Linked DNA regions of Homo sapiens: all the other regions are linked to region 1. The links come from fine-mapping of genetic effects on gene expression. A gene starts in region 1. Each other region holds a variant in brackets. All regions are shown on one strand. Distances are between the middles of the regions.

Region 1 (6,464 bases):
CACAACTTTAGTATCCATCCTTTGGCTATTCCCATTTTGAAGGAACATAGAATTTTAGGGCTGTAAGGTTTTAGTTCATTTGGTTCTATCATCTCATTCCACAGATACAAAAACTGGGGTGCAATGATGTTAAGTGACTTGCTCAGGTACTACCGGGCTGAGTAATCTTTTTGGTCAGAACAACTTGCTCTAAACATAAAACAAGATACTTTTGAGAATGCAATTGGAAAACAGTTCTCAACGTCAGAAAACAAATATAGCAACAATTGCAATATACGGTTCTAAACAATATGCAATCTACCCAGTTTATTTCCATGGTGACAACTTAAGCATTAAAAATAGAAGGCAAATATAGCAAAGGATGAAATAATTGATAAATAGAAAATAAAAAGTCCCCACAAACATCCTAGCAAGTAAGAGTTATGAATCTCAAACAACAAAGAATTTCCAAGTCACCTGAACTGTCACTGTAGCATCCACATGAGAAGAAACCACTTCTGGCCGGGTGCGGTGGCTGACACCTGTAATCCCAGCACTTTGGGAGGCCGAGGCAGGCAGATCACAAGGTCAGGAGTTTGAGACCAGCCTGACCAACATGGTGAAACCCCGTCTCTATTAAAAATACAAAAATTACCCGGGCGTGGTGGCACACGCCTGTAATCCCAGCTACTCAGGAGGCTGAGGCAGAAGAATCGCTTGAATTGGGGAAGAGGAAGTTGCAGTGAGCCGAGATCGGGCCACTGCACTCCAGCCTGGGTGACAGAGCGAGACTCTGTCTCAAAAAATAATAATAAAAAGAAACCACTTCCATGGAATCAGAGAGATGGTTCCATATTAGCCATGACTTCTGCTGCTCTTTTGAGAATGTGGGCTTACTACCTAATCATTTTAAGATGCCCATGGGCACTTTTACTTAGATACATGCACTTTCTCTTTGCACTAGTGAGTCTACGTGAATATTACATGCCAGAGGAACGTTAAAGTCTACGCTAACAATGCTTCATTTTTCTTTAACAATTTTGTCCAGGTCATGGAGACATTTTTGTGGAGTGATAAATTAACTTGGTCTCCTGATGTGTTTTCCCCACATGCCTTGGAAAATCACTTGTTTTTCTGAGAGGTGGTAGTCATCAAAGCCTTAACTTCAGCAACAGCTTCGCTGTTTTAGCTTTGTTATAATTAAGATACCCTAGTACCATTGATAGTTTAGGATATTTGATATGAATGTAATGCAAAAATATTTTTGGCCCTTTGTATATAGCAATGGTCTCAAACTATGAGCAAAATTATGGCTAAATCAGATTTTCAAAAATGGATTTTAAGAAATTCCAGGAGGTAGGAACCTGGTTAACTCATGTGACTTTAAAAATCAGATCTCTGCCAACAGCCCAATTCAGTTTCCTAAGAATAAATTTTTAAACTTCCTGTATCAATGCCTTAACTCAGTTTCCCTTCTCCATGTGTCACTCTCATTAACTTTTGTTGTGCGTGATTTTTTTTTTTCTTTTTTTGACGGAGTCTAGTTCTGTTGCCAGGCTGGAGAGCAGCGGCGTGATCTCGGCTCCCTGCAACCTCCGCCTCCCAGGTTCAAGCGATTCTCCTGCCTCAGCCTCCCGAGTAGCTGGGACTACAGGCACGTGCCACCACGCCCGGATACTTTTTTGTATTTTTAGTAGAGACGGGGTTTCATCATGTTGGCCAGGATGGTTTCGATCTCCTGACCTTGTGATCTGCCCGTCTCGGCCTCCCAAAGTGCTGGGATTACAGGCGTGAGCCACCGCGCCTGGCCTGTGTGTGATTTTATGCAGGCTGGACACCAGTATCCTAGAATAAGATGATCTGGATTCTATCCTGATAAACTGGATCAAACAGGTACTCATCTGATGCAGGTGAAACTCCAGTGCAGGAACTTCTATGATAACATTAACTGAACATAATTTTAATTGAAATGATCTACTTTTATGTTTCTTTAGATGTGAACATTAATTTTTCTCTTAATCTTCTGTTAACTAATTTCTTGGTAATGTACTCAAAAGAGCTTTCAACCAGTCTTCCCATGTAAGAAGTTATCACCATACTCACTCTGTTACTTTCCCTTATACTGCACACTTTGCTCAGCAATGAATTGATCCCTGATTTACACATCAAGCTGAGCTCTCACATCCTAAATATATCTATTCTTTTGGAATTTTAGGTATTTGGCAAATATTGAAGCGTTGGGGAGATTAAAGAGAATCAAACACAACACTAGCAGACTCAACTACAATCCACAGAGGAAATAACCAAATAAGTTGCTATTTTAAACAATTTAAGCAAATAGAAGGAAGGGATTTCAGAACTCACAGTATCTATAGGCAAGAAAATAACTGAAGCAGTGATGCTTAAAAAGACTTGGTGAGGGTTAATACTTGAATCCCTATAAAATACAGTATTTTATAGTATTTGACAACACAGGTGTGAAGGTGAGCATGGATAACCAGTTTTCTTCTCTAAGCAGGCAATAAGAATGTTAAATATAAATAAGACTTCATATAATATAAAGAGTGAAAGACTGAAAGCATTGTCTTACGACTACTGTATTATTTAAAGAACTACATCTATATCAATTAAATGTGGCAGGACAGAATGTACAGTACAATACTGGGGGTGCAAGATTTTAAAATGAGGAACAGGCCAAAATCTAAACACAGAATCGTCCAAAAAAAAAAAAAAGCCTTCAAGTAGAAAAAGTTTTCAATAACAAAACATGGTAGTTAAACGCCTGCGTCTAGTAACATGAGTTGGGGAAAAAACATTAATAGCAGATTAATGAAACAGATTCTGTGCGAGGTCAGGGTAGGGAGTGATGGCGCGCGGAAGCGGCGTAAGAGCTGGTTTCGCCGTCCCAGAAAGGGTTCCACATCCACACGCCTGTACTGCGGCCCTGCGGGGAGCGTTCAGACCCCTCCGTTTCCCTTCACCATTGTAAACGCGCAATCCCATTAAGATCCCGTTCACTCCAATTCCTGGAAAGAAGCTTAGAACGGTGAATCTCTTCCTCGGAGTTGAAAATCAACTTCCAGTGCCGGTCACCCAATCCTTCAAAAATCCTAGCCCTCTCGGGCCCAATTCCTAAAGAATTCAAGCCTGCACCCTGTACACCCTGACCGATCTCAGCTCGTCCCCACTCCGCTCCCAGCGTCCCCAGCTCTAAACGCCGCCGCGTGGCTCAGCGCTGCCCAAGCCGGGCCCTGAAGGCCGCGCACAACGCCCCGCCCCCGGCGAGCGTGGCGGAAGTAGCTCGCTCGGGCTGGGAGAGCGCGCGCCACCTGGCCAAGCGCGCATGCGCCCGCACTGCCAGTGCGGGGGGCGTCCGTATCGCTTACTCCTCAGTCTCCGCAACCCCCGCCCCACCGAGAGTCGGGCTCACGCCATCTTGTACCCCCCCCATCGCCCCGTCACACAGCCGAGTCACCTTTTCCCTTTCTACACTCCACACTCTCAGTCCCCCACCCCGCCCCTTTCCAAGCGTGTCCCGGGCCGCAGCAGCAGAAACCGCACCATCTCCACCCCCACATTCTCCTCGCGGGAAGCGCAGCAGTGCCTCCAAGGGTTCTTAAAGCAGAGGTTGTAGGGCTTGCGGGGGGCGGTGCGGGGATTCGGGCGGGGGAGACGTCAGAGAGCCGGGAGGGACGCAGAGCGGAGATCCCAGCGTCGCTGGGCCCCCGCGCCGGCCACGCCCTGGCCCCGGCTCGAGGGCGGCTGCCTGGGTCTTCGTGGTCTACGCCGGAGTGTTGAAGGGAGGGCGGCTGTGGGAGGCGCTGGCCGGGCGCAGCGCCCTGGTTCCGCTGCCGAGCGTGGAGTTGCCTCTCGACTCCTCCCTTTTGGCGGGTGGGCGTGGGGTGAGGGGGGCTGGGCTGTGCTGAGAAGCGGGGTGCGCGGGTCGTCTAGGTAGTGTGGGGGCTGCCGGAGGAATCATTAAAGAGGGAAATTGTTGCTTTATGGCACGGCGAGAGAAGAGTTAGGTAGTTAGTGGGAGTGTAGCATCCAGAAAGAGGAAAAGATCCGCTGTGTTCTCTGTGGGGTGAGCTCACGTCTGTGACCCCTGGGGAAATTATTTAGCTTGTCTTTGCCTTGTTTTGGTCTGTAAAATGGCGATCTTATAGCCTATTTCAGAATTGTGAGGATTATATGAGAAAATACACGTTAAACGCTTAGAACAGCGCCAGGTGCTGCTCAGTACATATTAGCTCTGCTTTTGCTCTCCACGTTTTAGGAGTTCAGAATGACTGTGACCTTATTTTCTCAGAGAATCAGGACACTTGGTCTCACACGTGAGAGTGAAGTTATGAAGACAGTGATATGTAATATTTGACACTCAGACGATCCTGGACGTAGTATTACTGTACACGTGGATAAATTAGCATTTCTCCAAGAGGCTAATAGAAATGTTAAGTTATTTCGGTAGAAAGAAATGTGTGTGTATATATATGTATATACATATGTGTGTATATAAGTATATGTATGTGTATATATGTATGTATGTATTTGGAAGGAGAGGACCTGGGGTCTTAGTATATGTGAAGGGCAGACTCTGGAAGAGGAATTAAATTCGCCCTGCAAAGATTTACTTGAAGGACAAAACTTGGGGAATTTCTGGTGAATGTTTCAAAGAGGCTGAATTTGCCTATGAGAAACAGTTCGTGAGAGTACTTTGCAAGAATGGAATGCTCTTCATTGTGCTATGGAAAGTTTCTTATCTCAGGATATTCGGGACGTTGGAGCGAAGTATGCCTAAGTCTAGGGCTGCACTTTTCACTAGCAGTTTCTGCCTTGATGGAGATGTTCCATAATCTGTGCCTTTAGGCACTAGTGGTAGCCTAGGCACAGTGGCTCTTCAGCACTTGAAATGTGATAAGTGTCACTGAGGAACTTAATTTTTAATTTTATTCATAAATTAATAAATTGATTTACGTTTAAATACCCACATGTGGCTAGTGGTAGCTACTGCATTGGACAGCACAGGGCTACAATTTAGATTTTGAGAGTCCTTCCGAGTCTTGATATGGTTGAGTTTTAAATCAGATAAGCCAGCTCTTTGGAACATTTATTGCCATAGGGAATTGTAATTATATTCAAATAATGCCTTTCATTCAAATACTGCAGTTCAGACCATGGGTCTGTTAGTACTTATTTACATCTTGACAAATTAAAGCAAAACGTTGTCTCCTAGGTTGTACAGCTAATGCCAGATTCAGAGAGCTATGACAGTATTAACTGGAGTTTTCTTTAAACATTATTGTACTATTTTGTGATTGTCGGTTTCTGCTATCTTTTACCACTTTGGTTGGTTTTTCAGTGAGAAGTTTCCAGCTCTTATTCAAGTTTTTTTCTTTTTTAACCTTTTGTGTAATAAAGCGATTTGAAAAATTGTAACTCTTGAGCATTAGGACATTTTAGAACTAGTTTTATGGTTATCCAAATCTTTTGGAGAGATAAGTGAAATTAGGTAATAGATGTTTCACAAAATTACTTTACTTGAAATATGTGCATCTGTTTTTTTTTTTTAAAGCAAGTGTATATAAAGTCAAATTTGAAAATAAAACTAAAAGAACAAATAAAAAACCTTTATAGGTAGCGGTAGCACCCTTAACCTTGGCCTGATGTCTGTAAAATGGTGCCCTTGGGCCAGGCACGTTGGCTCATGCTTGTAATCCCAGCACTTTGGGAGGCTGAGGCCAGAGGATCTCTTGAACCTAGGAGTTCAAGGCTGCAGTGAATCATGGTCAGGCCAGGCTTCCAGCCTGGGCTGCAGAGGGAGACCTTGTCTCTTTAAAAAAAAAAATGATGCTCTTGGTCTTAAGGCTGAAGATAATTGTTAGATCTGGAGCAATAACTTAAAGCTCACGAGTTAAATCAGATGGAGAGAATAGCTCATAATATACAAATCAGAATGGGGTGCTTTTATGGGTGACTATAGTATCTTAATTTTTCTGAGACAGTCGTAGTATAAAGCCTGATTGTTCCAGCACAATTATTTTATTTAATAGAACCCCTTTCACTATCAAAATGTTCGAATTGGGACCACATCATAATGTCACCCTACTGTTAGCCTTGTTGGGACTTGTAATATATAGTTTTAGGATGATTAACCACATTGCAATATCAGAAATACTTTATTATTTTTGAGATGGAGTTTCACTCTTGTTGCCCAGATTGGAGTACAATGGTGCGATCTCAGCTCACTGCAACCTCCCCCTCCTGGGTTCAAGCGATTCTCCTGCCTCAGCCTCCCGAGTAGCTGGGATTACAGGCACATGCCAGCATGCCTGGCTAATTTTTGTATTTTTTGTAGAGACAGAGTTTCACTATGTTGGCCAGGCTGGTTTTGAACTCTTGATCTCAAGTGCTCCACCCGCCTCAGCCTCCCAAAGTTCTGGGATTACAGGTGTGAGCCACCGTGCCCGGCCAGAAATATACTTTAA
Region 2 (6,464 bases), 590 kb after region 1:
GGAACCACTGGTGGGAATGGGCACAGGCACAGTCGCACTGCAAAGAAATCTGGCAATATTTAAAGAAAACCAAGTATGGGGTTCTCCAAGCTCAAGCAATCCTTTTTACACAGTTTGGTAAGGGGATATGTACAGAAATGTTTGTGTGGTATTACTTTGGTGATGGAGAGTTAAGAGAATCCCAAATGTTAACCTCTAGGGGAGTGGATAAGAAAAATGAGGGGCACGCATACCATATCAGAACTCAGGACTGCAGCTAAGAGCAACGCACGGGCCAGGACACTGTACATGCTTACCTCAGAGAGTAAGGAAGGACCGAGATGAGTGACAGCCTTCCCACTTAAGAAGTCAGAAAAAGAACCACTCAGCCCACAGGAAGAAGAAAGCAGGAAATAAAACTTAAGGTAGAAGTTAAGGAACCAGAAAATAGATAACAGAATCAACAAAGTCAAAAGCGGGTTCTTAGAAAAGGTAAACCTCGGCAAGATGAATCAAGAAAAAAAGGGCGCTAAAGCGCTCCATTTTAGGAATGAAAAATGGAACATGACCCACACATCCTGTAGAGATTAACAGATAATAAGAGGATACTATGAACAACTTTATGTCTGTAAATTTAAAAATTCAGATAAAATGAAATAGATAAATTCTTAGAAAAATACAAGTTGCCAAAAGTGACTCAAGCAAAAATAAAGAACCAGGGTAATCTTATAAGTACTAAGGAAATTAAATTACTAGTTTAAAATAGCAGTAAAAAGACAACCACAGTCCAAAAGGCTTTACAGTAACTTCTATAAATCATTTAAAGAATTGATCATTCCAATACAAATAAAATAATGGAATAAGAGCAATTTATTCTCCCATCTCCAATTTACCGAGGAGACTAAAAAGAGATCAATGCAAATGACAGCATAGTACAAGCAAAAATATTACAGGACAATCTCACTCCAAACATTCTGAACAAAAGATTAGCAAACAAATATTTTATTAGAAATAAATTTTAAAACAATACATCCTGGCCAAGTTAGAATCTATTAATTATATAATTATATTAACAATTAATAAATCATTACATTAATGTTATATTAAAGGAGGAAAACCCTTATGATCATCTCATTGCTTTTTAAAGCAATGAATTCCTTATAAAGCATTAGGTAAAATTCAAAAATTGACAATGGGAAAACAAAAGCTTTTTGCAAACTAGGATCCGAAGACCTGTTCTTGAATCTGATCAAGAATATCCACAAAGAACCTGCAGCAAACGCATTCCCTGAAATCGCAGAAGCCCTCCCTTTGTGATGGCAGAAACATGGGGCTGTCCCTTTCTACTCCTGTTCAATGCTGTCCAGCCATCTCCACAGGACACATAAAGAAATGTCAGGATTGGAAAGAAACAAAATTACCATTATTTGCAGATGATTTGGTTTTCCATTTAGAAAACTCAAAATAATCTTGAGATAAATATTAGAGTTAATAAAATAGACTTTAAAAGTGATATTATAGCAAAAACCACAACTACTTTTGCACCAACCTAATACGTAAGCTGATTCCCTTTCTATATTCCAGTAAAAACAGCTAGACAATGTAATAAAACACTGCACTTAGAATAGCAACAAAAATATATCCAGAAATAAATCTACCAAAGATGTGAAAGTCCTCTACAGATAAAGTTATAAACATGTATTAAGAGATACAAAAAAGACCTAATTAAGATGACTGTACTTAAATAGGAAGACTCTAGATCCTGAAGTTGTCAATATTCTCCTCAGTTGATGCACAGTCAATGCAAGTGCAAGCAAAATCTCATTACGTGTGTGTATATGACAGTGGTGGCAGGGGGACAGCAACTAAACAAGGTGGTTCTAAAAATTTATATGGAAGAACAAAAGTCAAAAATAACTTAAAGATGAAAAACAAAATGGAGGGACTTGTCCTACCAAATATCAAAACTTTCAATAAAGCTATAAAAATGAAGACAGTGCGGTATTAGCACAAGAAGAGACGAAGAGACCTGTGGAAGAGAATAATCAACCCAGGACCAAACCCAATACAAAACAGGCATTGCAGGGTGGACTGATCAATATAACTAAGACAATGTGTTATCTATGTGAGATAAAAATAAACTTAGAGCCTTACCTCACACTCTACATTAAAAAAAAACACCAACTTTGGGTGGGTTAAAAACCTGTGAAAGGCAAAAGTTTACATCTTTCAGAAGACAATGGGAGAGGCTATCTCTATGATCTCAGAGCCAGGAAGGAATTATTTAACAAGACAGGTAAATGCAAACTATATAGGATCATACTGACAAACTTGACTATATTAAAATTAACTTAAAGAGCTGATATCATGCAACAGTAAGAAGCAATGAGCTAAATGAACATATAATCACATGGATAGTCCTCAAAACACAGTGCTGAGTAAAAAAATATGAAGCAGAACAAAAATTATAGCATATTTCTGTTTATGCAAATTAAAAACATGTATACACAAAACAGTACATATTTTACAAAGATACAAACAAATTTAAGGATATCCAAATCATTCCAATGCATTAGGGTGAATATTCAGAATAAATAAGAACGTGAGTCAGAGAGAAGGGGGAAATGGAATAAAATGCAACAAGAGAAGGGCTTGCCCAGGCTAGTGAAGACAGTGTACTACCAACTAGGGAGTACAATTACCTCTACTCTGCTCCTCAAGTTCAACAGAAAAAACAAAACAAGCAAATAAAACAAACAAAGATTGCCAATGTTACCTCAACCATGAATATCTCAACTTTGGATTTAAGGCTGTTTAACTTTGGATTTAAGGCTGTTTCATTCTTTTTTTTCCTGATATCCATGACGATTTCACAAAATGCCCCAAAATTCCATTAGGAAGTAAACATGTCTTGAACAAGCACCACTTTATAATTATTAGGTGTTTTAGGTTGAGTTTCTTAGAAGCAGAACCTGAGGCAAGAATTCTGTGTATAAATGTTTTATTGAGGGAGTGAATAAAGCAGGATAGGACAAGGGAAGAAGATAGGCAAAGAAATGGGTTCAGAGGAAGTCTAGTCTGTCTGATCCCGTGGGGAGCTCTGAAGTATGAATTACCACCTAAAATGTATGCCACTTACACAAAAGGATACCAGCCTCTTATATCCCACTATCAGTCAGGGGTACAACAGTCACACTTAGGGGCACTTGTAAGTGACATGAGTCTGAGTAGGAGGGCATCTTTGAGGCAGGCTATCCCAGTCTACCCTCTAGCCTTCCAAAAT[T/G]CACTTCCCTCCCACATGCAAAATACACTTCCCCCTTTCCAAGTTTCCCAAAAGTCTCATACCATTATGGCTTCAGATCAAAGTTCAGAATCCCTTCATCTAAATGAGGTCTAGGTGCTCATGGGGTTCCTTTGAGGGTAGTTCCTTAAGCAAGCTCCTTGAATACGCTACTTTTGATTTTAAAACCTTCAAACTAGACAGACAAGTTATCCCTTCCTCCCCCAACACTTGATGTTGGAACATGGATAGGATAATTTCTACAGGAATTCCTGTTCAAAAGCAGGGGAAATGGGAGGTACAAAGGAGTCACTGGCCCATAGCAATTCTGAAATCTCATGGGGGCAAATTCCCTGATTAGGAATCAGTCTTACTTCTGATTGAGTCAAAAGCCAGAGAACAATTCTCCTTGGATTTTGACTCTAACATCCAGGCTCTTAGTTCCAGCCCCTGTGCTCTTGATTTCCCCTTGTGAGTCATTCTTTTTTTCTTTATTTTTGTTTTTTGTCTCACCCTGATTCCTGCCAGAATTTTGTGGTCCAAAGGCCTTTATTTATTTTGTACTAATTCTGTCCCTTTCAGTACAAGCCGGATATGTTTTTGTGATTATTATCTAAAAACTTGTAGCTTTCCTATGAATGTCATTGGGGGTTTTCTCCATTAGACAAAAGCCACATACATATAAATCTCTTTGAGATAAGCCCTTCTCTACCCTGGGCTTCTACTGCAATCAGTTAGCTTTACTCTTAAGCTTCTTAGAAACTTTAGCACCTTTTGTCTATCTGAATGGTACTCTAAGGCATCTCTTAGATCTTTTCTGAAATCTTAACAATGAATTTTACAGCCACAGCCTCAGCTTTATTTTTGGACCATGTTTTCCCAGCAGTGCCCTTGATTTGATCTTTAGTTAAAAGATATTTCTTAATTTTTAGCATCATTTGGCATCTAGAGATGTTAGGAAGTGTCTAAATCACAAGTCCTTACTCCTCTTAGCTTATCTCCCTCCTGTCGCATTTTAGTAGAAGCATCATGAATCAGGTGAAACTTCTAACACTCTAGCTGGAAATATCCTTACTAGATCACACAGTTCATTAGGTGCATTTTCTATTTCCACATGACTCTAGGTGACACTTTTGCTACCCTTTCTGCCACTAGGTATTCAGGATTTCCCTTTATCCAGCTTCCAGTAACATGTTCCTTTGTTCCTGTTAGGGCCTATCAGCAGCCTTCTCATCCAGACTGTTCAAGGCACTTCAGGCTTTCAGCAGCACTCTCTTTAATGTCCTTCCAGCTTCCATTTACCTCCTGGTTCCAAAGCCACTTCAACTTCTGTAGGTATTTGTTATGGCAACCCCCTCTTGCAGATACCAAAAACCTGTATTCTTGATTGTCATGTAACAAATTAACCCCAAAACATTTATTATGACACAGTATCTGTGGTTCAGAAATTCAGGGGCAGTTTAGCTGAGAGGTTCTTACTTGGGGCCTCTCATGTAGCTATAGTCAGAATGTTGGCAGGAGCCGAAGTCACTAAAAGGCTTGACTGAAGCTGGATGGCTCCCACACATGGGAGTTAGCAGGAGGCTCAGTTCCTCACCAAATGGCCCTCTCTACAGGCTATTTGAGTGTCGTGACAACATGACATCTAACTTCCCCAAGAGCGAGTAATACAAGAGAAAGACTAACTATGTTTTAACAAGAATCACTCTGGTTGCTGTGTGGAGAATAGACTGCAGGAGGGCAAGGGTAGAAATGGAGAACTTACTAAGAAGCTAATAAGATGATGTAGGCAAGAAATGATGGTGGCTTGAACAAGAGAGGAGCAATGGAGATGGTAAGATCCTGAATATATGTTGATATTTTGAAGGCAGAGCTGGCAAGATGTACTGCTAGATTGTAGATGGAGTCTGAGAGAAGGACCATGGAGATCAACCAGGTTTTGACCTGAGCGAACTGGAGGAATGAGATCACCATTCACTGAGGCAGCCACCCTCCATATGATTTAGGAACCTTTATTATCTATATTTCAGAGGTGAGGAAAGTGAAATTTTGAGTGCTTAAGTAACTTGCCAAAGGTATCCCAGATGGTAGGTGACATAGCTGGTTCTTAGTGATGTAGTGTACTGGTTATTAACTACTGTACACTACTGTCTACTGAGCCAGGAATATTACTAGATGGATCACTTGCCAACATACTTTGTTAAAGCAACTGGCAGATGTCTGTGTGCTTCCAGATGACTTGCTCAGCAGTAGGGGCAGGGCATCAAGGGAATACACATCCCTACATTCACATGTGTGTGGCCACAGTGCTCACTGCCCATGCCACCCTGGCCAGGGTCTGGTGCTGAATGTGAGCCATGCTAATGTGGAAGCTTCCAAACATGCACTCCGCACTCCAGAGAGAAGGCAAGGTCAGGGGAATCTTGCCCCCCACATGCCACCAGGCTGCCTGCTTTCCAGCCAGTAACTGTTGGTACTTTAGGAATTCACTGCTAGGGTCAGCTCTTTAGTGCAAACCTGCTACGGGCTCTTTGTTAGATGATGCCAAGGGCAGGAGCCTGAAACATTAAGCCAGGGCCCCTGGGACATTCATTTCTGCAGTTATCCATATGTGGACTGACAAGGGAGGCAGCATTTAGCATTGTTTGCAGTCTGGATTCCTTCATGAGCAATTGGATTTTCTATTTCTTCTCTAATTCAGTTTCTACCCTCACTGACTAAGCTACATCCCAATTCCTGATGAGGACTAGGAATTCCAAGTGGCTGCCCTGGGACAGAAGGGATCCTGTTTCCAGGCTGGTCCCCGTTAGCCCTGCCCTTGCTTGAGAAACCCTTTACAGTCTTGCGGAGTGAGAATCTTTTCCTTTTTCTCTTTCTTTTCCTTTTCCCTCTCTATAGGAGAGTATATAATGGCTGCTTTATATACCTAGTAAAATTTTTGGATAAGTCCTCCCAAAAACAATGTTTCTTTGATGTTGTATTAAAGAAAAAAATATACTTTAAGCGGGGAAAGCAAAGCACATTTCTGTGTTTTCATGCAGGGCCTAATTAGGGAGAATTTCTGGGAGGTGAACCTGGAAGTAGGGGGCCTCGGTGTCTCCTGCTGATCTCAGAAGGGATCTGGGGTGTCACCACTTTTTAATTTTAAATAGAAAAACACAGACAGAGACCCAATCTCTAAAGGGAATAGATTCTAAGTGGGGAC
Region 3 (6,464 bases), 32 kb after region 1:
GATGTTGGTGATCCAGAGACCATACTTGGAAAACTAGTGCTTTTATATAATGTCATCTTGTAGTGCCCCGATTTATCAATAAGTAGCTAATTTAATCATAGCCGTAGCAGATGGTGACTTAAAGAAAACTCAGCAGGTAAACTGAAAGCCAAGAAAGAACCCACATTTTTCTTAATCCTTATTTTAGTGGACTCATTAAATGGAAGATTGTGGGACAAAATATAGAGAATTATTGTGATTCCATAATTGTGACTTTAAATATGTAGAAGTAGACTGAAATACTAGCGATATTCTTTTTTCCCCCTCTAGTGTAGTTGTCCCTAGAAGAACTAAATTGAAATTTAAATACCCCATTTGTATTATAGGCAGTAACATTTATAATCAGGATCCCACTGATTTACGTAATGACAGAATTTAATGATACCAGTGGAAAGATTATAAACCTCTTTCCACTCATAAATTCATTTATTCAACATTTACTAAGTACATGTGGTGTGCCATGAACTGTGTATACATTTGTGGAAATAAATAATTATAAATTGTGATAAGGACTCTGAAGGAAAATGTACAGGATACTATGAGATAGTGTAATGGGGGAACTAAAGCCTCTCAAAGAGAGTTCATTTAAGCTGAAACATGAAGGATCGATAGGAATTTTGGTTACACAGAGTTGTGGGAAGAGGAAATATCACTTCCATCACTAAATAGGTAATGTGCACTAACATCTTCCTATATATTATTTCATTTAATGCCTTGTTAGTTGAATGATATTATTGCCAATTTTTTTTTTTTTTTTTTGAGTTGGAGTTTTACTTTGTCACCCAGGCTGGAGTGCAGTGGTGGGATCTTGGCTCACTGCAACCTCCACCTCCCGGATTCAAGTGATTCTCCTGCCTCAGTCTCCTGAGTAGCTGGGACTACAGGCATGCGCCACCATACCTGGATAACTTTTTTTTTTTTGTATTTTTAGTAGAGACGGGGTTTCACTGTGTTGGTCAGTCTGGTCTGGAACTCTAGACCTCAAGTGAGCCTTCTACCTCGGCCTCCCAAAGTGCTGGGATTACAGGCGTGAGCCACCGTGCCTGGCTATTGCCAAATTTTAGATTAAGAAAATGAGGAGACGATAAAACTAATGGTAGAGAATTTTTTTTTAGAATTTAGAATTTCTTTAATAGAAATTAAATAGCTTTCCAGAGTCATCCAGCTATTCAGTGGTAGAACTGGGATTAGATTTGGTCTTTCTGACTCCAGAGTCAGACTTTTAACTGCTATGTTATATTAGATTTAAACTTATTTTCTTAATTATTAAATAATGTAAGTATGCCCCTTTTTTCTCATTTCTATGGAAATGAGAAAGGTGCTGCTTTTAACGTAAAAACTATAAGCTAGACATAAGCAGGCCATTTAGAGGGATACATACACATATCCACATATCCACACATGTGTACACATGCATACATACCTATTTATATAACTTTAAACTTTCTCTGATTGTAAAAGTAATGCATTTGTTTGAGATTTTGGAATCTCTAGAACCAAGGAGGGAAATAATTTTTTCATTCACAGGTAACCATACTGACATTCTGTTTCATTATTTCAGTAGGCATGTAGTATTTTTTAAAAATAGTAATTACAATGTGAATACAGAATTATTCTCTGATAAATAGACAAACAGTGTTTTAATGAAATATACGTCTTTTTTTTTTAAAAAAAAGAATTGTGAAGTTCTTTTTTGGATGTAGAAAAATAAAGTATTTGGATTTCACTCTTCTATTTAAAGGGAATAATCTCACAGGATTATGTTTCTTTTATTTAAAATTTTTTTCTCTGTCATGTGCATATTCCCTTGCTTTTGCAGACAGACCCCAAGAATGCTGGGGAATTTAAAAATATATGGAATGTAAGCCTTGCTGCATTTATGTTTATTAACCAGTTTAAAAAATATATTAAAGGTCAGATTTTGTTTTTCTCAAACTTAACATCTTGCCTATAATGATACATGGATATTCCTTTTGGGTTCATTATGTGCCATAGTGATTTATGTTGAGGTATTTCTTTTGTGTACATCTACCACCAAAAGATTTTAAATACAATTGCAGAACTTTACATTTGTAACTTGAGAAAGAAGGAAATACATCTTAAAATCAGAACACTGTTCCCTAACAGTCATATATATATCAGTGAAATCGAATTCATTTTAAAGAAATTTAATTATTCACTGTAGTTTAATTTACTATATCTCTTAATTCTAAGGTGTTGAATATAAATTAAATTTAGATGTTAGCCAGATATCCCATTATTTCACTTATCTTAATATGATACATGTAAATAATTCTTTAGTCTTAGCTTCTTTCTTTGATAGTAAACTCACACATATTTGTGGGGTATTTTTATTTAAAATGTGTTCAATTTTTAATTATATAAAGTACCACCTCTCTTTTCAGCCATGTAAGTTATTTTTAAGGCATTTTCTTTTCTTATATAGTATTTCTTTAGCTGTTACCACGTCCCTTTGCTAAGTCCTCCTACTTTTTGTTTAGGCACTTGTTTATTTGTCCATCCACTTCCACCTAATGTTTCATTAATTCATTTAAGAAATGTTTATTGAGGCCCGGCGCGATGGCTCACGCCTATAATCCTAGCACTTTGGGGGGCCAAGGTGGGCGAATCACCTGAGGTCAAGTTTGAGACCAGCCTGACCAACATGGTGAAACTGGGTCTCTACTAAAAAAATATAAAAATTAGCCAGGCATGGTGGCCTGCACCTGTAATCCCAGCTAGTCAGGCAGAGGCAAGAGAATTGCTTGAACCCAGGAGGTGGAGGTTGCAGTGAGCCGAGATCGCACCACTGCACTTTGGCCTGGGCAATAGAGTGAGACCCTATCTCAAGAAAAAAAAAAAAAAA[G/AG]AAATGTTTATTGAATTCCTATTATATGCCAGGCATTTGGCTAGATGATGTGAAAAGAAAGTAAGAGTGGGAGAGAGGGAATTCTTGTGTATCTGTGCTACCAAGAGAGTGTGTAGTTTAGTGTACTGTATTGTATCTCTGTGCTTAATGAAGTTGCCTGTGGGGCTGCTCAGGAGGGCATGCGAGGTTCTAGCTACCCTCTCACCCTTCTTCGTTTCAACCCTGTAGACTCCTTTAAAAATCTATTTTATTTATTGGGCTTTCTCATAGCATTTCCTATGAACAATGGATTTTGCAATTTAAAAACTTCAGTATCACCTGTCTAGTAGAATTATATATATTTACATATATACATAAGTAGAGTGAGAATCTTACACACATAGAAACTGAGAGAATGACAGGTGGTAGATGCAGGTAAGTATGTGAAAAGAGTTACAGATATGCTACTATAGGAATATGGAGGTGGATCAGAGAGTTTTCAATTTGGAGGATGAAAGCCAGTGAAAATAGTGTCGTTTGAGATTTTTCTTCAAGGATAGGCAATATTTAGCCCTGTAGAGATTTGTAGGTAGGGTGACAGTGAGGATAGGTAGGGAATATTGCAAGTACGGGAGACAGCATGATCAAAGACACAGAGGCAGGGATGAGGCATTTGGAGCAAATAGCTTACTGTGTCTAGAGAGAAACTGGGTCATAGAAAATACAGATAAAACATGATTAGTATCAAAATGTGGCAAGCTTTGGCAGACTGAGGAGTTAAGTCTTTTTCAAAGACAATTGGAAACCTTTGAAAAATGTTTGAAAGATAAAGGTACGGTGTGCATTGATACTCATTAAGAAGAATTGATAATGCATCATGTAAAATGAGTTGGCTGTGGAAAGACCTATTGTAGTAGTCCATGTAAGAGGGAATGGGAATGAAGAATAGCAAGCAAGTGTAAGTGATATTGCATAGGTTAGATTGTTAGGTCTTGGGGATTTATGAGATTAGAGAATTAGTTACCAAAAATGATTCCAAGGTTTCTATCTTAGAGGACTAGCAAGCTGATCGTGCCATTAAGCTGCAGGTTTGAGCGTTGGTTTATCATTTGTATCCTGGTTGAGGAGTCTATCATAATTATTTATAATACTAAAGGATTAAAAAATGGAAATTGAGATGAAGCCTGAAAGGAATAGAGATACAAAATTAATCTAGAAGGTAAAAGTCTGCAGAGATGCATATAATAAAGTCCCTCTGGTTGCTGAGATGGGGCAAAAGTTTTACTGTCAACCTCATAGCAAATAGGAAAACATGTCATTTGAGCATGACATTTTACAGTCTTTAACAATCAAGTGAACAGAAGTTTTATTTATAATACTAAATTGTAATAGCTTATCTTTGATATTTTTATAAAGTGTCAAAGATTTTTATAAGTATTCTGACATCTTGTATTAATATCTCATTTAAATCTCAAAACATCCATGTGAGGCAGCGCAGATGAGTGGGTAGTTTCTCCTCTGTTTCATCCCATGAGGAACGTTTTAATGTACAGCCTTTTTGTTACATAAATCAGTTTGCTAAATTCTGATTCAGCTAGGTGAAACAGATTTCTAAACTCACCAGAATGAAGCTTGGCTTCAGAGCATAGTCCATGGCAACTACTAAACTATCCTGCTTGTAAAGAGTCCCTTAAACTTCAGGGATTTAAAAATTCTGTACCATTAGTTTTACCGTCTCCCTTGTCATAGTCTGAATCTTGGCTTACTGCATTTTTAACTTCTGAAGTGGCCTTCTTTTTTAGGTCCACCAAGTATATTTCTCTTTTGTCTTAAAGGCAGACTCACCTTTCATATTTAGGATTTTTTTTCTCTAGGCTTTCCTAGCCAACCATGAAGAGCTAGTTTATACACTTTACCTAAAAAGTTAACATGCTTTTGACATTCCTGATTTTTAATGGGTTTTAAATTTGTGGTAGGCATAGCTTTTTGTGGCCTCTTAATAGTTTTTGTTGTGCATATCGTAAAGCAGTTAAGTACTTAATTGATAATGTTACTGTTCTAGACGTTCAAAGGAAAATGTACATATATGGGCTCTCCACTGGATATTTAGAATCTAAGGCACTGCTCATTTGGACATGAATGAAAAAAAAAACCATCAGAGAATGAAAACAATAAAGCACTGCATGAATGGGCAACAAAGTACATTGTTTATAGCTAAGGGCAAGTCAGTTTTAAGGGTGGAGAGCAAAAATAAGTATACAGACAAGGGGAAGTTTAGGCCAAGTATAAATGAAGTGGTTCCCAACTGTATAAGAAATAAGATTGAAAATTCTGGTTCAAGTAGTCTAAGAAACCCCTGCAGAGGAGCTAAACTTCTAGGAACTTTGTCATGGTCTAACTCTTTGTATACTACTAAGTATTTAGTGGATGTTCTTTCTCTTTGTCATATCCACTTCATATCAACTTTTATCTCTCCGAATAAAAGGAATTTGAATTGCTCTTTAGTTTGACAATTTTTCATATATACAATTGTCTCATATTTTCTGTTTTATTCAATTAGTAGTCATGGAGAGGAAAAAAGACAGGAATAGGCACCTGTGATTGTAAAATATTTTACCAGTAAACAACTAGTATAGAATATCAAGGGCAACTGGTTATAAAATGAAAGCCTGTAGACCTGTCAGGTGGAGGTCTTTGATGGCTAAGATTCTAATATGGGTTATTAAAAGCATGATTTTAAGCACCTAGAAGGTGAGTAGTTGGAGCCAAATGGTTTTCCTCAGCAGTAGTCATGCCTCACAAACTTCTGTGTTACATCAGAGCTACTGGATAGCTGTCTCAGGAACATGGGACAGAGACACCATTTTTAAACTTCATCAAGGCTTTTCACAAGCTTGTGGTGAGACATCATTGACAACATGAAGAAATATAGACTAGTAGCTAGTTCGTACTGTTATGCAACTTAATAATTTGCAGAATGTCTCAAATTATTGAAGGCATTTTTTACAAGAGAGAGTTATGTACATAGGACCTTCTCTCTTAATCAGTCATTGTGGGTAAACTGAGGGGTGTATGAATGTGAAAATTCTATTCAGGTTTGAAAAGCTGCCTTTTGGAGGTGCAATTATTATAGATTAGATGATCTCTGTTAGTCTCTCGAGTCCTTCAGAATTAAGAGTAAACTACCAGGTGCTCTTCACTCAGTATCAGAACTCTGAAACAGATCAAGTGAACAACTTTAGGGACCTTTAGTAGAGAAGGGGTTTCACCATGTTGGCCAGGATGGTCTTGATCTTCTTGGTCTGCCCGCCTCGGCCTCCCAAAGTGCTGGGATTACAGGTGTGAGCCACTGCACCCGGCTGAGATTCTGCATTTTTAACAAGCTTTCAGGTCATGCTGATTCTGCTGTTTTGTGAGCCACACTATGAGTATGAGTTTAGACTTAAGATGATTTAAGGTTTGGAAAGTTGATTATATTTAATAATTGTAATGCTTTTGTCAGATCAGTGTAGACACTTTACATTTTATTTAACTGGAAACTTTCAAGGTAGGTGGTAATATTTTTACAGATGAGGAAATT
Region 4 (6,464 bases), 260 kb after region 1:
AGGGGACAAAGCTAATCCCAGCATATGGAAATTAATTTTTAAAAACCCAGAATTTCACTTACTGGAACAAATATCTCTCCAAGATGCAGAGGGACAGGCATAGTGATAGTGTGTTGCAGGGTCTTTAAGAGGTTTAAATGACATATATAAATATACCTGGCACTTAATACATGCTTACTGTTTAAAGAAAAATTAATACAGATAAAGATACAAGTGTATGTGTGTATAATTTTTAAGAGAGAGAGAGAAACGTGCGCAGTTGTGCTAAAATGTTAATAATTGGTGATTCTAGGTGAAGGATTTACAGGTGTTCATTCCACTGTTATTTCAGCTTTTCTGTTGGTTAGGAATCTTTCAAAATAAAATGTGAGAAGAAGGAGAGGAAGGGAGGCTAGGCTGACTAGTTTGTGAGGGCAAACTTCCTTAAATGCTGTGAAAAATAACGAGCCTGTCATTCAGTATCTGAAATAAAAACAGAAAACTTGATTTATTTCTTCTTATCATAAAGGAGAGATACATGCCGGTCAAGCACAGTTTGTTAGCAAGGAAGGCTGCTGATCTTTTGGGTTTTCAGGAAGCATTGAGTTCAGGGATTGGTCGTGTTCTGGAGTTGACATAATCTATAATAAGAGAGATGAGAATGTTGTTGATTGGTTGGCACTCAAGGGTGTGTTTACTGGAATGAGTCTGTTCCTGGTTCTGGTGGCTGTTTATTGCCATGGCTACAGAAAATCAGTCATGTCTTTAAGTTTGTGGGAACTTTGAAAATTCTCAGCTAGTATAATATTCAGTGCCTGACATGATGTAGACCCAGTATTCAATAAATATTCGTTGAATGTAAGTGCATTTTTAAAAAGCTCACAATGTTTGCCATTATCACCACCATCATCATGTCATTGTTAGAAACTGAAGAACTTGGCTTTGGAGTTCTAAAATCTTAGGTTGCATTTTATTTGGAATCCTCTCACTAAAGTCCTTAAGTTATTTTGGAAGTTGTTTTGTTTGTTTGTTTAAATCAGTGTTTCCTAATTTTTTTTCAATGCTATGTAACTCCATGGGCTTAGAAAAGGATTATATACACAGTAAATACGTTTAAAATCAAGAGTTTCTTTTCTTCAGAACCTCTCAGAGTGTTTAGTATGGTAACATGTATTGCAAATCTAGAAAAGAATAAAATATGTCATTTTCCAAGCTCATTTAACTACAAAATACTTTTTCTTCTGGACACTGTCAATCTGAAAAATGTTGTTGCAGTATGCCATATTTATATCCATTTTATATTGATAATTTTCTAAAGATCTGATGGTACAAAATTCTCTTATCTCTGTGACTATCTCATACCAAGTAATCTTGACGCTTACTGTTGCTGACTCCCCGGGTAAATGTCTTAACTTTCTTGACTCTCTCTGATTCCATGTTTATGTAACATGGGAGAAACTTTCCTGTTTGCATGCTTTACAGTTTGCTTTAAATGATAGGTGAGAAAAGTCCTCTATGACTATGAGGTGTTATTGTGATTACAGTGTATCTGTTTTCAATGTTATAGGAAGTTAGTTTTTTGACTAAATTTCAGTCAATCTAAGATAGTAAAGTCCATTAAATGTTTTGGAGGCTTAATAGATGTTCATTTAGCGTGTTGTTGTACAATGAGTTCTGGATGAGGTAAAAGTCCTAGTTTTACTTCTAACTGGACTTATGACCTTGAGATGGCTATTTAACCTCTTGGGCTTTCATTTTTCATCTGTTTAAAACTGAATGAAAGGACTACGTAATCTTTTAGATTATTTTTTGACCTAACATTCAATGATTGCTATATAGATCTTTCCTGTTCCTCAAATAGGGACGGTTTATAATAATTTGCTTTATGCTGCTATCTATTAAGAGTTTGAAGATGGGAATATTTGCTTCTTAGAAATGTAGGATATATGAGGAAAAATGCCCTGTAAATTGTTAGAAGAAATTCATAAAGATATTCTGCTAGTTTTGTAAACTTTCTCAGATGCACATTTTCATGCACTGTAGATGAGTTTTATTTTATGAGCTTTCTTATAAATATTTATGGATGAGCTTTCTTATGTAAATCTTGATTTTTAAAAAAATTTTCTGATTTATATATTTTTTCTATTTAAAGCTATTTCTTTCACACATCAGATCTTAATAAATACATGTTTTAATATTTCACACTGCCCATTGCATACATTTCGTGATTCTGTTCTAAGTTTTTTTCTCTCATCTTTCTAACATACAAATTATTTATTTAGTAATTCATTAGTTATATTGTTTATTGTCCTTTCCTCATCGGAATGTAAACTTGACTCATTTTTTTGTCTGTTTTGTTCACTGATATGTTCCAAGGAACCAGAACAGTGCCTGGCACATACCAGGCAATCAGTCAATATTTGTTGATTGAGTGATTAATACTTGTAGGTATTATGTGTTTACCTTTTCAAAATTTTATACTGTTTTATCTTTTATTTTAAACATATATGTATATTAGTATATTTGTATTTTTTTACGTCAGCATTATTTATTTTATATCATAAATAATTTAATTTTGCTTTTTATATATCTTCACATATTTATATTTATTTCATGGTGTTTTGTAAAATTCTAAAAGTTTTCTCAAAGTTCAGTTAAATTATATGAATGTTTACTATCAGAAGGGGAATGGGGAAATGGTTGTTGAGAAATCAAGCAAGCAATGAGAAAAATCATCACTGCTAGGAAATCTGTTGTCTTAGATGTTTATTTGATTTTTTTTTTTTTTTTTTTTGATGGAGTCTTGCTCTGTCGCCCAGGCTGGAGTGCAATGGCTCAATCTCGGCTCACCGCAACCTCTGCCTCCCAGGCTCAGGCGACTCTCCTGCCTCAACCTCCCAAGTAGCTGGGGTTACAGGCATGCGCCACCATGCCATGCCTAGCTAATTTTGTATTTTTAGTAGAGATGGGGTTTCACCATGTTGGCCAGTCTGGTCTGGAACTCCTGACCTCAGGTGATCTACCCACCTTGGCCTCCCAAAGTGCTGGGGTTGAGCCACCACGCCCAGCCTTATTTGATATTTTGATTTACCTATCACTTGGGGTTTCTTAGAGCTATTGTTAATAAAATTCATTTCTTCCTTTGAAAACAGGTGGGTAAAATCATAGATTTGTGAAAGAGCTGTTAAAATTTGAAGAGCAAGGCTAATTTGTAGTGTTTATAACTTTCCAATTGCATTAAATGACTGATCACGGCCAAACTTCTGCACTTTTATTCCCCACTTTGGATAGTGGACAAATCAGTGTCAACAGATATTGGGTAAGAATGACATAAACAACAGTATGATGTCTGTGTTCACATACATCATCTAGTACTAGTTTAGCTGACTAAAGTGTATGGTAGGGCTGTAGCCTGGTATTCACTCTAATTCCATTTAGGAGAAATTCTTGGGTATTATAGTAATACCTAGTCTATAAAAGTGTAATCAAAAAATGCTTTGAACGGAAAAAAAAAAA[AC/C]CTTTCTTTTGGGGACAGCAAGTTACCCAGAGCCTTCTTAAACCAAGCAATAGTCACACAGTGTCCATTCTAAAGTAATGTCAATTACCTGGGGTAGGAAAACATCCAAAAAAACCAGAACTAATTAAAAAAAAAAAAAAAAGTGACTAGCTCCCAAGACCACAGCAATTACTTAACCAGAGTATCCAGAATGATTTAACCACATTAGAGTCTGTAGCCAGTGGGAAGTATTGAAAGCAACTCAGCATCCAAGAAGATGTACACATGGCAGTAAAGAAACATCTCTTTATCCTTTCTTTATGTTTGGTTTCTAGATGCTTTATGAGTAGATCTGCTTGTAGGCCTTGTATGCTTGGTGACTGGCCCAGCAGGCTGTCCACAGATCATCACCAAACTTATCCCCTTTGCTTCTTTTTCAGAATCTCTTTAATTAAAACTTAATCAGCCCTTCCCCTCTGTTAGAAACTTAATCAGCACTTCCCCTCTAAATCAGCCCTTCTCCTCTGTTAGAAACTTAATCAGTCCTTCCCCTCTGTTAGAAACTTAATCAGTCCTTCCCCTCTATTCTTAATCAGGGCTTGGAAATTTAAAAACAAGTATTTTAGACTCAAAGTTAGGCCTGTTAAATTCTTTTAATTGAAAAAGAATAATGTAAAATTCCGTGATAATATGTTCAACACCCCCCACCTTTTTTTTTAAATTTAAGGAACAATGACATGTTTCTTAGAAATTATTTCCACATATAAGGCCAGGGATAAACTATAGCTTTCTTTTCCTTCCTCTAATTATTTTTATTTATTTATTTCGTTCTGTTACTCATTTTTAACATGTTTTTCTTTTTCTTAATTTCATGATTTTCCCACAGTTTACTCTGTGCAATTTGATTTTCTCATAACAGTGTTGCCCCATTCTTGAAGACAGTCTTTAAGATTTACGAATTATAGTTGAATCAGATATATTTGATTCAAAATAAAGTTTCTGAAAAGGTTTCTTTAAAATTATCTAATCTAGTCCCCTCCTTTTACTGCTGAGAAACTGAGGTGCCAGGAGAAGTTACCTGCTCATTGCAGTACTTCTTAATAGCATAGTGGGAACTAGAACCAGATCCTCTAACTTCCAGGATATTTTCATGGTTACTGACTTTTCCTACTTTGTAGCTGACGGCCAGAATATAGTATGACTTCTAGCAGCATTATTGTAATCTTTTTAGTTGGATACAAGCCCTGTGAACTTCATCCATTTTTCTGAGCTCAAATCTCTGGCTGGTCATTTAGTTTGGTGCTATTTCTTTCCCTGAGTGGGGGTGGGGGGGCCGTGACTACAGTGAGATGTCAGCTGGGCACCTACTCATCCACTGACTCTCATGAACTTCATCCTCAACATCAGAGAATAGAAAAGCATTATCTTCAGATGAAGGAATAAATTTCCCATATGCTATTTGTTTCTGTTTTGAGACTTTAGAACTGAAATAATAAGGGTAATTGTTTGAAAGGAAAAATACAAGTTTTATTTATTGTTAATTCATTCCCTTAACAAATGAAACTGTTTTCTTGCTTGTTTTTTTTGCGGGGGGGAGGGAGGGGGGAATGTATGCCATGACCTTCTAGTACTAATTAGACTGATTTACTTGGTAGGGAACACTTTGGAAAACCCCTCAATCCCAGGCAAACTAGGGTGATTGGTCATGCTGATAACAATAATGTATATATGTTAGTGAATGCAAAAAGATTTTCTAACACCAATAAATAAAATATATTTTTAAAAATACCATTTTGGCTGGGGGCAGTGGATCAAGCCTATAATCATAGCACTTTGGGAGGCTGAGGTGGGCAGATCACGAGGTCAGGAGTTCGAGACCAGCCTGGCCAACATGGTGAAACCCTGTCTCTACTAAAAATACAAAAACTAGCTGGGCATGGTGGCGGGCGCCTGTAATCCCAGCTACTCAGGAGGCTGAGGCAGGACAGTTGCTTGAAGCCGGGAGGTGGAGGTTGCAGTGAGCGAAGGTCGCGCCACTGCACTCCAGCCTGGGTGACAGAGTGAGACTCTGTCTCAAAAAAAAAAAAAAAAAGTATCGTTTGTTTTATTTCTTACCTCCTTTGATATTTCTCTTTTGTGTTTATTTTATGCTGTTTTGTTATTATATTAATTTGTATAACTTGAAAAGAAATACACACACACATATGTACACACATTACATATACTTTCTCAAAAAGTATTTATTTTCCCCTTACAGTTTATGCCATTAAAAGAGTTTGGAGTTGACTGCCTTTCACAGCTGGGGATATGTAGATGTGAGGAGAATAGGTCAATTGATACATCATCAAATACATGCATTTACATAGGGTCCAGAGGTTAGCAAAAGATTTTAGCAAATGAAATGATGCTTTAGAATTTATAGAGAGATTAAAAGAGTATTGCTATATTTGGGTAGCATCTTGGCATAGATTACTAACCAAAGATGTCACATGTGGATTCAACATAAGATAGTAAAGCTCCTTCATTTTTAAGAAATCTTTCTCCTTTTTTTTTTTTAAAAAAAGCTGATGTTAGAAAGCACTGAAAAGGGGTTCTGTTGTTTTTTGAGAGCAAAATGACTAGACGTTTATTGTATATTTTAATAGATGTCTATTTGAAGGATCTCCCCTAATTTTAGATAGTATTGGGCTATACATAGCGCAAAAATGTTAAAAGTGTTAGTCATAAATTCTGCTGTCTTTTTAAAACAGTATCCAATGGTTTTGTTCAGCATTCATCCTCCTGGATCCCAGTATAAGTATACAGAATAAAAAGTTTAACTTCATCTCATGAATGCCCTTGTTTGTTTCATACTTTCACTGTGCACCTGTCAAGCGGATTGCAGAGTCAGTTGCCCTAGGTTGAAGTGAGACATTTCATCCCAGGATTGAATAAAGCCAATACTGTTTGCATGAGAAGATAGGGTGTAAGTTGCTCCGCCCCAATCATT
Region 5 (6,464 bases), 530 kb after region 1:
TCCCTGGATTCTGACTGACAATGAACAAAATAATTGAAAAAAGAAAGTTCAGTATTTCAGTCATAAACTTCCAAGACTCCTTTCTATTTGAGAATGTTTTTGTCTTGCTAACCACAGAGAACAGTTGGAGTGAGTGGATCATTTTATTTTGATTGCTTCTCCTGCACTGGCCCTGAGGGACAGACTTGATGATCTAATAAGTCTTTTCCATCTCTAATATCTATAATTTTGGCTATTCTGTGGCAGCTTCTTATTGCTTTAAATAAGCCATCTTAATTCAAAAAACATACATCTGGATTTGACCTGCCTAATATATGTCAAGAAGAGTGTGTCCCTTTAAAGCCCCACCAGGGAATTTCTGAGAGACTAAAGAAACTGAAAGGAAGCAGGAAAAAAAAGGTTAGGGGGAAGTGGAGGGGAACTGTGATTCAAACAATTTTCTGTTTATTTTATTTAAGTTTTTATTTTTCAATAAGGAGATTGTCCCTTAGGCCTCCTTAAATCATTTATTGGTTAAAATTTAATCTGATCATTAGTGCATTCTTACATTAGTAGCATTTTAAAATTGTTGATTCTTTTTCTTGGAAGTTATTCTACCATTAACTAGCATTTTGTTTCACAGATTTTAGTCATCATCTCTGACCAGTTCTTGGCCTCATATCCACTCTGCAACTCCTCAGACTTGAATGTCTGAAGAGGAAGTGGTATCTATGCATTGCTCCAAATGTCAGCCAGTGGTGGTCCTCAGGCCAGGTGTCCTGGGGGCATTATTACAAATACATAGTAACTGTCTTCTCCCCAGCTAAATACATTGCCAACAGTATGAATTCGCTTTTATAAATGTATAAATATATTGCCTCTACAGTTGTACTCAGGCCATACATCTGGTTGATCTGCTGGAATAGCTATCCTTTATTTTTCCTGCCCAGTGATTTTAATTCAATGTGTAGGTCTTGTAAGCTGTTTTTGGTTAATATTTTCTCCTGCACATATTTAGTTATTTCCTGAGATTATTGTTCCAGACAGAAGAATAGAGGACTATGTCTGTGTCTCTTTTTGTCCATCAGTCTGTCCTTGTCTTCCTGCAAGACTAATTCAGCCTAAATGCTTAGTTACTTTTTCTGACCCTTTCTCCAGATCCTCATGATTATAGGCAGATCAAACTAGAATAAAAATTAGTATTCATGGCCGGGCGCGGTGGCTCACGCCTGTAATCCCAGCACTTTGGGAGGCCGAGGCGGGCGGATCACGAGGTCAGGAGATCGAGACCATCCCGGCTAAAATGGTGAAACCCCGTCTCTACTAAAAAATACAAAAAATTAGCCGGGCGTAGTGGCGGGCGCCTGTAGTCCCAGCTACTTGGGAGGCTGAGGCAGGAGAATGGCGTGAACCCGGGAGGCGGAGCTTGCAGTGAGCCGAGATCCCGCCACTGCACTCCAGCCTGGGCGACAGAGCGAGACTCCGTCTCAAAAAAAAAAAAAAAAAAAAAAAAGTATTCATTTGTAGTGCTTATATCTACAGCTATGCCCTATAGAAAAGTCATATACATGGCAAGAAACAAGTGGAAGTTTGTAAATTTATTCAACAAATATTTGTTGGCCATATGTTATATTCTAGGCACTTCATGAAATTACGTTAAACTGCTCCCATGTATGGTACCCAGTGCTTCAGCTATGACTTAGCCTATAATGTCACATTGGAGTTGAAATTAAAGTTATAAGGTAGTGTTTTTATCAGTTGTTTATTTAGACTAAAATGCCTTTAAAAAGAAAGTCGTCTCTTATTCACTTCTGATTTCCTTCAAAGGAAGGTTGGGGGGAATGAAGTAGTAGGAAGTGTAGTAGGTTAAATGTTAGATGTCATTGTTTCGAGTCCTGAGTCTGTCATTGAACCACGAAATTTAGAAAAATCATTTAACCTTTTTGAGCCACAGTTTCTCATCTAAAATGGGCATAGTAATCCCCCCTGCTTTCCAGAATTACAGTTAGGTTCACATGAGAGAATGCTTGTAGAAGTACCTTGCCTATCTCTATAATATCTATTGGTCTGTAATAGAAAAGACTCTCTTATAATTGTAAGTCAGCTCACAGGAAAACCTTCATTAGAAAAGGACAGTTGCAGAGATCCACACAACAAATGTACACAGACTATTACTCTAATACTGTTCTTATCACAAGAATAAAGACAACAGAGATTTAAAACTAGGAATGAACCTGACAAATAAGGTTTTGATTTTTCTCCCTAGCCTAGTGGTTCTCTGCCCTGGCTGAACTTTGGAATTGATGCCTGGGGCCTGTCACCAGAAATTAATTGGTGCCAGTGGGTCTCAGGATATTTAAAAGTTCCCCAAGTGGCTCTAATGTACAACCAGCCAGTGTTGAGAAAAGTCACCGTGCTAGAGAAATCAATAAAAGACCTCCAGAAGTCTAGTTATGAAGACACAGGCTGGGTACAGTGGCTCACTCCTGTAATCCTAGCACTTTGGGAGGCTGAGACAGGTGGATCACTTGAGGATAGGAGTTCGAGACCAGCCTGGCCAACATGGTGAAACCCCGTCTCTACTAAAAATACAAAAAAAAATTAGCTGAGTGTGGTGGCACACACCTGTAATTCCAGCTACTCAGGAGGCTGAGGCAGGAGAATCACTTGAACCACAAGACAGAGGTTGCAGTGAGTCAAGATCATGCCACTGCACTCCAGCCTGGATAACAGAGCCAGACTCCATCTCAAAAAAAAAAAAAAAAAAAAAAAAAAGACACAGAGATAACTGTCAACACTAGAAGAAAATATTTCTGTAATGAATGGTAAAGAAAATTAGTGGAATCCATACATCTCCAACAATAGTCTATAGTAGCTTAGGTTGACATCTCACCAGTGACAAGAGCAGGAGAAGAAAAGACAGAGCATTTAAAAAATCTTCCCATAGGCTGGGTGTGGTGGCTCACGCCTGTAATCCCAGCACTTTGGGAGGCCAAGGCAGGTGGATCACCCGAGGTCAGGAGTTCGAGACCAGCCTGGCCAACATAGCGAAACCCCATCTCTACTAAAAATACAAAAATTAGCTGGGCATGGTGGCACATGCCTGTAGTCCCAGCTACTCAGAAGGCTGAGGCAGGAGAATCACTTGAACCCGGGAGGCGGAGGTTGTAGTGAGCCAAGATTGTGCCACTGCACTCCAGCCTGGGTGACAGAGCAAGACTCTGTCTCAAAAAAAAAAAAAAA[AT/T]CTTCCCATAACTGTTTAAGTTTCCATTTAAAAATTAGTATTCAACCAGTAATATGATAGCTATAGAATGAGTCAAGTGGCGATAGGTATACGTAAACACAAGTGTAAGTGCTGTTTTCACAATTCTTGTTCCCTGTAGTAAATATTTAAGTAACAGCTAATCTGTGTTGTTATAACCAATCATGGCTGATTCCATGAAATGTGTAGACACTTTGATTGTGACCAGACTTGTAGTCTCAGGTCATTTCTATGCCTAACAAAATAACTGTATCAGCAATTGGAAAAGTATATAGTAGCTAGCACAGTCCCAAACTAAAATACAAGAAAAAAAATATTAGTCTTTCATTGTGATGCTAAGGGTCCAGTTCTCAGAGCATTGTCCTGATTTGTGCCCAAGGATTCAATCTCATCCTTAATATCAATTACTGAAAACAGAAAAATCACATTTATGTGTTTTCCAGTTTAAACACAGAAAAAGCCAAGAAAGTCAAACGGTAAGCCTTAAAAACTCCATCCCTGATGTGGAAATTGTTTTAGTCTTCAAAAAACTTTTCAACTGGGGCTGGGTACAGTGCCTCACGCCTGTAATCCCAGCACTTTGGGAGGCTAAGGCGGAGAGATCACCTGAGGTCAAGAGTTTGAGACCAGCCTGTCCAGCAGAGAAACCCCGTCTCTACCAAAAATACAAAAATGAGCCAGATGTGGTGGCAGATGCCTGTAATCCCAGCTACTCAGAAAGCTGAGGCAGGAGAATTGCTTGAACCCAGGAGGCGGAGGTTGCAGTGAGCCAGTATTGCGCCACTGCACTCCAGCCTGAGCGACAGAGGGAGACTCTGTCTCAAAAAGAAAAAAAAAAAAATTCAATTGGGAAAGACAAAAATGTTCAGAAAGCTCAGCCCTCCCCTGTTCTCTCCAAAGACCCTTCTCAGTTTCCTGCAATATAGACATCTATCCTGGTCTTACCTCCTTTTTCCCACTCCTTCCCTTCTAAAACCTCCCTTGTTTCTTCTGTAGTCTGGTGCACATGCTTTATTGAAGGGCTCTGAGGTTCCTCCCTTCAACTGTAAGGTTGTCTGGTGTCTGAACTACCTTTGAGCCTCTTGTCACTATCTGTGTGGTTAGCTTGTTGAAATATGCGTAAGTGTAACTCTTGAAGAGATTAGTAAATCGAACTGTTGGTATCCTTAACTAGCCTTTTGCATTAAGTTGAGGAAAAGTTCATGATTGACAAGCCTAAAGTTACAGAGCAGAGTGAGTGCAAAGTTGGAAGGCAAAGTGATGAAAAGGACAAAGGATCAGGGATGGTACTGAAATGGGAAAAATTCCCTTCTCCCCCTCACAGGGCATGCAGTGGGGGTGTGGCTCGCTTGTTCAGTGCCCCACTGCCCATACCTCTAGGGGAGCATAAAGACGGGCAGGCTGTGGGCTCTGACCCCATGGCAGTGTCTAGGGGTGAACGTTTACAGCTGAAGCCCCAGTGGGCGTGTGTTACAGGGTGCTCTTTTAGTTTAGCCGTCCATAGGCAGCTTGTGTTAGTCAGCTCAATTAGACCCCTGCCTTATCGCAAGGACAGAGGGCTTTCTGTATCCCAGGGTTCTTGCCTTGGTGTACCGGAAAAATCAGATCACACATGGGCTTGGAGAATGAGCACAAGGTTTTATTGAGTGGAAGTAGCTCTCAGCAGATAGGGGAGCCAGAAGGGAGATATTTTCCCCTGGTGTCGGGTTGCTCAGTGGCCTGGGCTCATGCCAGCGAGCTCCCCTCAACGTCCTCTTGACATCCAGCCTCTTGTGTCTTCTTCTGCCAGTGTGTTCCTCTTGATGTCCAGCCGCTTGTGTGTGTGCCCACTAGGGTCTCAGGTTTTTATAGGCACAGGATCGGGGCGTGGTGGACCAGGGTGGTCTTGGGAAATGCAACATTTGGGCAGAAGTGCCTGTCCTCACCTAGGTCTGTGGGTACAGGCCCTAGGGTGGAGCCCTCACCAGGGACCCACCCTTCTCTTCCCAGCACTTCTTTGCCCCTCTTCCATACCAGTACCAAAACAGTTTTTGAAAGCCTGCTACTTCATATACCTTTATCAAGGAGCAGTTCTTCAGAATTAGAATTCAAGCCCTCCATAGAGAAATGCCATTTCAGAGCTGTCTAGTGATTGGTATATCACTTCACAATGATAGCTTATGAATGGATGGCTTAGATGTACTCCTGTGAGTCCCAGGAGACCCTGTTTTATGCCTCACGTATCTGTTTTTCTCCCACTCAGTTTCTACCCCAGTGTCTGGTACTAGTAAGCATTCAATAAATGTTTGCCAAAATGAATGGAATTTATTGTATAATTATATACACAGTTTACCTTGGTCTTAAGGAACTCTAGTCATATAATTTTTCTATTCAACTGGGACTTTCTAATGAACATGTAGTGTGCTGCCATGTAGAAAACTAACAACTTGGAAACTTACTAAGTGCTGTGTTTCATTTCTAGTACTGTTCAAGTCCAAACAAGTACATCCTGCCTGTGATGTACAAATCCTGACCATCTCCAACAAAAGCATTATTGTGGGGGGGGTTTTGTTGTTTTATTTTACTGAGTTATAATTTGCATACAATAAAATTCATTCTTTTAAAATATATAGTTTGATGATTTTGACAAATGTATATAGCCATAAAACCACCATCACAATTAAAATATTAGAGCATTTCCATTGCTGCAAAAAAGATGTCCTGACATCTCATTATAGTCAGTCCTCTACCCCTACCATCCATAGCTCTGTCAATCACTGATGTGTTTTCTGACCCTATAATTTTCCCATTTGTAATATGTCATACAAATGCAAATTGTATATATGTACCCCTTTGAGTCTGACTTCTTTTCATTTAGCATAATGCATTTGAAGTTCATCTGTGTTATTGCATATATCAATAATACATTCCTTTTTTATTGCTGAAGAGTGTTCCCTTCTATGGGTGTACCGCATTTGGTTTCTTTGTAGTGGACATTTGGGATATTTCCAGTTTTGAGCAATTAGGAATAAAGTTTACATAAAAATATATAAATGTTCACCTATAAAACATGGACATGTTTTCATTTCTCTTGAGTTGGTAATTTTGACATAGTCTGATTTATCGATCTTTTTTTTACAGATAAGTATGTTAGCTAAGAAAGCTTTGCTTATAAGGGCACAAAAATTTTGTCCTATTTCTTCTAGAATTTTTATGGTTACTTGTGTTTGGGTCTGTGATTCAT

Which allele goes with the higher level. Alleles are on the strand shown, and positions count from the first base shown. SD is a standard deviation of normalised expression in the study named. Not every link is listed here.
For the expression in prefrontal cortex of the gene that starts at base 3,440 in region 1, G is the low allele of the variant in region 3 and AG is the other (moderate effect, 0.53 SD a copy in CommonMind).

Evidence for each region.
Region 2: its variant is fine-mapped to the expression of SUPT3H in whole blood (TOPMed, PIP above 0.99).
Region 3: its variant is fine-mapped to the expression of SUPT3H in prefrontal cortex (CommonMind, PIP 0.95).
Region 4: its variant is fine-mapped to the expression of SUPT3H in whole blood (INTERVAL, PIP above 0.99).
Region 5: its variant is fine-mapped to the expression of SUPT3H in whole blood (INTERVAL, PIP 0.99).

The regions. Positions count from the first base shown.
Region 1 is chr6:45,374,910-45,381,373 of GRCh38, reverse strand. SUPT3H (SPT3 homolog, SAGA and STAGA complex component) reads left to right here and starts at 3,440. Exons shown (of 11, transcript NM_003599.4): 1 at 3,440-3,606. All of the region lies in intron 2 of RUNX2 (RUNX family transcription factor 2), which reads right to left. RefSeq lists silencers at 3,149-3,198, 3,519-3,798 and an enhancer at 2,965-3,508.
Region 2 is chr6:44,781,498-44,787,961 of GRCh38, reverse strand. All of the region lies in intron 2 of LOC101929770 (a long non-coding RNA gene), which reads right to left. Among named protein-coding and RNA genes, the nearest start is that of MIR4642, 350 kb to the right of the region's middle. The variant T/G (reference allele first, on the strand shown) is at 3,263.
Region 3 is chr6:45,343,009-45,349,472 of GRCh38, reverse strand. All of the region lies in intron 2 of SUPT3H (SPT3 homolog, SAGA and STAGA complex component), which reads left to right. The region is part of intron 2 of RUNX2 (RUNX family transcription factor 2); the gene reads right to left. Among named protein-coding and RNA genes, the nearest start is that of RUNX2, 18 kb to the right of the region's middle. The variant G/AG (reference allele first, on the strand shown) is at 2,906.
Region 4 is chr6:45,110,137-45,116,600 of GRCh38, reverse strand. All of the region lies in intron 2 of SUPT3H (SPT3 homolog, SAGA and STAGA complex component), which reads left to right. Among named protein-coding and RNA genes, the nearest start is that of MIR586, 84 kb to the left of the region's middle. The variant AC/C (reference allele first, on the strand shown) is at 3,496.
Region 5 is chr6:44,844,249-44,850,712 of GRCh38, reverse strand. All of the region lies in intron 10 of SUPT3H (SPT3 homolog, SAGA and STAGA complex component), which reads left to right. Among named protein-coding and RNA genes, the nearest start is that of MIR586, 350 kb to the left of the region's middle. The variant AT/T (reference allele first, on the strand shown) is at 3,223.